Linked DNA regions of Homo sapiens: region 1 is reported to be linked to region 2. Evidence: microRNA targets listed by miRTarBase, many of them from high-throughput screens and not tested one by one. Region 2 holds a microRNA gene; the other region holds the end of a gene's coding sequence.
Evidence for each region. The annotated mature microRNA hsa-miR-6889-5p reads UCGGGGAGUCUGGGGUCCGGAAU and lies in region 2 at 1,896-1,918, opposite strand. An mRNA with a match to its seed (bases 2 to 7 or 8) in the 3' UTR can be bound and repressed. Matches are read on the target gene's strand: a 7mer-m8 pairs with bases 2 to 8, a 7mer-A1 pairs with bases 2 to 7 and ends in A, and an 8mer does both.

Region 1: miRTarBase lists ZNF787 as a target of hsa-miR-6889-5p. Seed matches in the 3' UTR shown: 7mer-m8 at 868-874 and 7mer-m8 at 1,213-1,219.

The regions. Positions count from the first base shown.
Region 1 is chr19:56,085,376-56,088,768 of GRCh38, reverse strand. ZNF787 (zinc finger protein 787) reads left to right here. Exons shown (of 3, transcript NM_001002836.4): 3 at 1-1,403. The coding sequence ends at 746. Among named protein-coding and RNA genes, the nearest start is that of LINC01864, 20 kb to the right of the region's middle. RefSeq lists enhancers at 1,822-2,421, 2,757-3,256, 3,257-3,393.
Region 2 is chr22:41,251,128-41,254,520 of GRCh38, forward strand. It overlaps MIR6889 (microRNA 6889), which reads right to left and starts at 1,923; the gene lies at 1,865-1,923. It overlaps RANGAP1 (Ran GTPase activating protein 1), which reads right to left. Exons shown (of 16, transcript NM_002883.4): 11 at 3,181-3,367; 12 at 1,745-1,864.

The sequences.
Region 1 (3,393 bases), not on the chromosome of region 2:
CCAACCTCATGCAGCACCAGCGCATCCACACGGGCGAGAAGCCCTACACCTGCCCCGACTGCGGCCGCAGCTTCACTCAGAGCAAGAGCCTGGCCAAGCACCGGCGCTCGCACAGCGGCCTCAAGCCCTTCGTGTGCCCGCGCTGCGGCCGCGGCTTCAGCCAGCCCAAGAGCCTCGCGCGTCACCTGCGGCTGCACCCGGAGCTGTCGGGGCCTGGCGTGGCGGCCAAGGTGCTGGCGGCTAGCGTCCGGCGGGCCAAGGGGCCCGAAGAGGCGGTGGCGGCGGACGGCGAGATCGCCATCCCCGTGGGCGATGGCGAGGGCATCATCGTGGTGGGCGCGCCGGGCGAGGGGGCCGCGGCCGCGGCAGCCATGGCGGGCGCGGGGGCAAAGGCCGCGGGGCCCCGGTCGCGGCGCGCCCCGGCCCCCAAGCCGTACGTGTGTCTGGAGTGCGGGAAGGGCTTCGGGCACGGGGCCGGGCTCCTGGCGCACCAGCGGGCCCAGCACGGGGACGGGCTCGGGGCGGCGGGGGGCGAGGAGCCGGCCCACATCTGCGTGGAGTGCGGGGAGGGCTTCGTGCAGGGCGCCGCGCTCCGGAGACACAAGAAGATCCACGCGGTGGGCGCGCCCTCGGTCTGCAGCAGCTGCGGACAGAGCTACTACCGCGCGGGCGGGGAGGAGGAGGACGACGACGACGAGGCCGCGGGCGGGCGGTGCCCCGAGTGCCGCGGTGGGGAGGGCCGGTAGGGGAGGGGCCCGGGGGGGGGGGCGGGCAGGGCCCCTCGGGCTTGGCGGGAGCGACGACGTGCAAGACCAAGAGACCCAGGGAGAAGCGGACGGGGTGCGATGGACCCCGCGGCATCCCCGGCTCCCCGCCCTCCTCTGTCCCTGCGCCGTCCGTGGGGGGGCACTGGGGCGTATTAGGGCCCGTTCACTTCTCCGCCTCGAGACTCTGCCCCCTCAGCCTGGCCCGCCCTTCCTAAGTTATCGGCCTGCGAGCCGGAGAGACAATGGAGAGAACTGCAGAGGCCGAGTGGCGACCAGGCCCCAAGCGGAAGGCCATTTTCCCTGCTCTTCCTCAGTTGTCCGGGGCGGGGGTGGGGGGTGCTGCGAGGAATGGAGAAACCAGGCCCTTTAGAGGATCCCAGAGAGGGAAGAGAACCAGGGGCCCTTTTCTCTTTTAGAATTTTCTTTTAATCAGCCCACCTTTTGACTCCCCGCCCGCCCCAATCCATTATTTTTTTCTGCCTTCCGGGTCCCATCCTTAGAGCTCGAGTCGTTCCTTCCCCTCCTGGATTCCGGGTAGCAGAGGCAGCGCCGCAGGAGGCGGGTGCCCGTTTGTCCCAGGCCTGGGCGTGGTGGAGGAAGGGGTGCTGGAACAATAAACGGCACTATCCAAATGTCCCCCTCTGCGTGGTTCTTGAGTCCGGGAGGGAGAAGGGCAAGAGGGGTAAACGGAGGCTCTCGCCGGGGCATCAGCAGAGCGTCAGCCGCGCCCCGGGAGTGGCCCGTTGGGTCGCCCGCGGAGGGCTCTAGGCAGGGGGGCCTGTCCGCGGATATCCTCACTATGGTGCGGGCACTCACAGGGCCTGGGAGCTGCTTGTAGATGGGGCAGGGCGGACTGGTCAGGGCCAGGCCTGCCCGCTGCAGGGGAAGGAGCCCCCACGGCTTCTACCACCCTCTCACAGGGGCGGCTGGCTTCCTCCACTCCTATCGTGTGGCCCCCGCCCCTAACCCCAAAAGCACCCTCCTCCTGCCTCCAGCTTCTGGGGGAGACTCTGACTGCAAAGGGCGCACGTCCCCCTACCTGGGTCGTTCACGGGGCTGGTCCCGTGGTTGCGGCTCCCTGCGAAGGAGGCTGGGAGATGAGGTCCCGGCGGCTGCCGCTCCGGGGACAGGACCCCCCGCCCCCTACGGGAGGAGGATGGTGCGCTCAGCTGTCTCTGCTGCAGGGGCCAGGCAGACGAGCCAGCCAGGGGCTGGGGGAGAGGGCGGGTATGCCACAGTCCAGCCGAGCGCTTAGGGCATTTCAGGCAGTGCGCGTGCCCGAGGGGCTTGGTCCGGTAGAGCCGCTGCAGCCGCCCTGCCAGGTGAGCGCTGTTGTTCATGATCAGAAGGGGGCTCGACCATGGCGACTGGTTTCCTGGACCCACAGCCCAGGTCCTGAGGACCCATGTTCCTGGGGCCTTGGGAGGCCGCAGTGAGGGTCCCAAAGGGGTATTTTCAACCTGGCTGAAGGCTGCGATTACTCAGGAGCGATTGGAGGCGGCAAGCTGCAGGCGTCTTTGACTTGGGGGTTTCATAGTAGAGGGGGACTTGAAGGAGAAATTCGGATTTCCAGTTAGAGCCCTTAATCTGCCCTTTCACACCCTGATGTGCTTGAGGAGGGTCCTGGGGCCTCATCTGGAGGCAGGGGGTTTAGAAACCAGGGCCACTGATGGTCTACAGATCCTGGAGGATTTGTTAGAGGACTAGGGAGTGATTGTGGATCAAAAAAGCGTGTTCTCAAGTGGCCAGAGCCTTGCTTAGATAATTGGTATTGCATGTCAGTTTTTGAAATTTCAGGTCACTCGAAAGGAGGGGGTGAACCTTGGCAGTTCAGAGTGGGCTGGGTTAGCAAAGACTGAGGAAGCATTGCTCACTTCTCCTAGGGTCCTTCTGTGGAGCTCTGGCCTTGGGCACTTCTGGAGGCCTGGGAGGATGGGAGGTGCCCTGTCTGGTAGAATTGGCAGCTCGGTGCCCCATAAGTCGGGCACACTGAGTCTCGGGTCAGCCTCTTCTACCTGCTCCAGTATATGGTGGCAGGAGCTGACACCTATAGCAAGAAAGATTCAGGGCAAGTTTCCACCCTGCCCCTTAAGGCTGTGTGACCCTGGGCAAGTGGACTAACCTCTCTGACCCTTGGCTTCCTGCCCTGTGGAAAGGAGAGCTTGCCTGCCTGCCTTGTATGACTGTGTGTGGAGGGGGGAATCCCCAAGCCATGTGTTAACTCACTGGAGCTGCCCTCCCAGGCATGAGCAAAGATGCAGGGGCGAGGAGCCAGGCTCAAATCCCAGCTCTGCACTACTCATCCCACTTTGTAATACAGAACTGAGCGAGCTCACATGACCACCTTGACATCAGCCTGCACCGGACCCAACACCTGACCTGTGCTTTGGTGTCACACGCTGTCCGTTACTGATTCATGCACTCAGGTAGTCATTGCCCACCCCTCACTCACTCATTCTACAAATGTGTTTTGGGCAGCAGCTCCGTGCCCAGTAGGCACGGCGTGGGTCCCAGGTAAAGAAAGGAACATGGGTTCTTGTGGCACTTGCCGTCGGCCCTGTAGTTCACCTGCATTGGAGCTGCTCACCCACGGCAAGGTGAGGCTAGGCGGCCGCTCCATGCTCAC
Region 2 (3,393 bases):
ATGGTTGGCCTGTGGCACGTGGTGGAGAGGTACCTGGGCTCTGACGCTAGCTAGGAGAGGCCTGGGCAGTACAAAGGCCCCTGGCGGGCAAGAACAGGTCCTGCCTTACCCCATGCTGTCCCTTCAGAGTCTGGCTTGGATTTGGCCTGCAGCAAGCACATATGCAGCATAGAGAGGGAATGAATGAGTGAATGAACAAGGATGAAAAATCATCCCAGCCGGGTGTGGCGGCTCATGCCTGTAACCCCAGCACTTTGGGAGGCTGAGGTGGGAGGATGGCTTGAGGCGAAAAGTCTGAGACCAGCCTAGGCAACATAGCAAGACCCCATGTCAACAAAAAGGAAAAAAATTAGCCAAGGTTGGTGGTGTGTGCCTATAGTCTCAGCTACTTGGGAGGCTGAGGCAGGAGGACTGCTTGAGCCCAGGAGGTCGAGGTTGCACTGAGCCATGATTGCACCACTGCACTCCAGCCGGAGTCACAAAGCAAAACATTGTCTCAGAAAAAAAAAAAAAAAAATCATTTCAGGGATCCAGTGGTCCCCATCTTGTAATTGAACTTGAAGAAATAATCTAGCATGTAGACAATACTCACATGCAGAAACGTTTACCTCAACCTCACAACAGGGAAAAGTGGAAAAAACGTCAGAAACAGTGCCTGGCTTTTAAGTGCTACATCCACACATTGCAATAAAAATCCTGAGAAGAGTTTTATGGGCACAAGAAAGTGATGAATGGTGCTACACCAAAGTGATAGGCCACAGAAAGGCTTACAACATCTGATTTATCATGTTAAAAGAAACAAAGAATACAGGCAAAACCTAACAAAGCAATTGGCCGAAATGTTAAGCCAACTCTGAGAGTGGGCCCATTTTATTTCTCTGTAACCTCCGAGCCTCCGCTTTCTTATCTACAAAATAAGGGCTGGCCGGGCACGGTGGCTCATGCCTGTAACCCTAGCACTTTGGGAGGCCGAGGTGGGTGGATCATGAGGTCAGGAGTTTGAGACCAGCCTGGCCAACGTGGTGAAACCTCGTCTCTACTAAAAAATACAAAAATTAGCTGGGCGCGGGAGGCTGAGGCAGGAGAATTGCTTGAACCCAGGAGGCAGAGTCTGCAGTGAGCCGAGATCGTGCCACTGCACTCCAGCCTGGGCGACAGAGTGAGACTCCATCTCAAAAAAATAAATAAATAAATAAATAATAAAATAAAGTAAGGGCAGCAGAGTCTACATTTCATGTTGCCAAGAGGGTTAAATAAAATCATGCCCAAATGCAGTGCCTGGCAGAAAATGGATGCCCCGAAGATCATCTATGAATGAATGAATGAGCCAACCAACAAGTGAGGCTGGAGTGAGGGCACCCATCCTGCAATAGGCACGTCACTTCCAAAGGAGCCCTGGGCAACAGAGTTGTTCTCGAAGCAGCTGGGCTGACGGAACACGCAGAGAGAAGCCAAGGAGGGGGTGGGCACATGCAAGGCTCTTAAGGAAATTCCCTAACCCCAGTCAGCATGGGAACTGGCGGGCTGTACTTTCTGTAGGCTGAGTGGGGAGGGAACATTTGCAACCCCTGGAGGCTTATAAATACCCTGGACATTTGCGCGTGTTGTAACAGTGGCAGGCCAAGCCTCCCTGCCCCCAGCTGACAGCGTCGCACCCCCAGGTCTCTGAGCTGTTCGTCCCTTTTCTCTAACAGCTCCAGAAGCCACAGCACGTACAGCGTGGGGGTCGAGGGGTGGTTATTACCTGCTGGGCTATCAGCACGGAGCTCTTGGGCCCTAGGCGCAGCAGCTTCTCTGGAGAGGGAAAAGCCAGGAAGGTGGAGACGTCTGCAGGAGGTGGGGAGGACAGCACGGGAGCTGGCTCCTGGGAAGTAGGGGCACAGAGGCTCTGGAGAATTCCGGACCCCAGACTCCCCGACACAGCTGTGCCCATCCCCACACCCAGCACATCCACCCTTCACTCCAGCCCATCTAGGCTCAAAGTCTAGAATTCTTCCTCCCACTCAGCTGCATTTCCCATCTATCAATATCACCCAGAGATGCTGGCCCTGGATGGCTCTTGGTCCAGGAGCCTTTGGGGTGAGGGGGAAGCTACCTCCCTGGGACTCAAAAAACCTGCTACGGCCAAGTGGATCCTCGTCATGACATGCAGTGCCCCAGAAATGACTACGGAGGCACATGGGGGCTAAAGTGGGTCCCCGTAGAACTACAGTCCAGCCTGGGTAAGCCCTGCTAGCACCAGAGGTGCCCAGAGGAAAAACTGAATTGAGGCGAACCTAGCCATTTGTTTAATTGATTCCATAAACCAGAGAAGCAGCCCAATTCAGCGTAAGCATGGGGAGTCCTTGTCCAGAGCCAAGTTCTCCAGGAGCTTTACTTAGGAACCTGACAGGGAATGCAAATGAATGAACTGGAGGTGTGGCAGCCCTGATGCAGCCCCGGGCCAGACAAGGGACACCAAGTGCCCAAGCCAGGTCATGGCCCAGCCACCATCCCAGGAATGGGGGAGTGGTTCCTAAGGGTCACCAAGACAATCCTCTGGTGGGTGGGGAAAAAAAAAATCAGAATTTCTATTTATGCTTATTTGTTTATTCTTTCAGAAACCCTTATGCATATCTTATAATATACATAATGCAGCAGCACTGCTACCTGTAAATAGACATTTATATTGGGGTAAATAGAAATATAGGTAACTATGGCTGGGCCCGGTGGCTCAATGCCTGTAATCCCAGCACTTTGGGAGGTCGAGGAGGGTGGATCACCTGAGGTCAGAAGTTCAAGACCAGCCTGGCCAATATGGCGAAACCCCGGCTCTACTAAAGATACAAAAATTAGCCAGGCGTGGTGGCAAGCATCTGTAATCCCAGCTGTTTGGGAGGCTGAGGCATAAGAATCACTTGAACCCGGGAGGCAGAGGTTGCAGTGAGCCGAGATCACACCACTGCACTCCAGCCTGGGTGACAAGAGTGAGACTCCATCTCAAAAAAAAAAAAAAGAAATATAGGTAACTATCATTACACTGGGACCATTTTCCTTTTTTTACTCAATATCATGCAATCAAAAAAAAATGTTTGTGGCTACTGTGCTTAAGGAGACACCCCCTACCCCATTGTGAAAGTGCCTCGGGATTTCACGTTCTCAGGACCAGGGCTCTGATTGTGGCAGATGATAGAAACTCACCCCAGTGTTAGGGTCCAGAATCTTCCGTGAGGGCGTGGCTGACTTCTCTCCCTGCCCTCGCTGCTGAGGCTCTTCTTCCTCCTCCTCCTCCTCTTCTTCCTCCTCTTCCTCATCTTCCTCCTCCTCTTCTTCTGCTTCCTCTTCTTCCTCTTCTCCTTCCTCCTCCTCCTCCTCGTCCTCGTCATCACTGCAGAAAGAGCTGGCTGAAGCAGA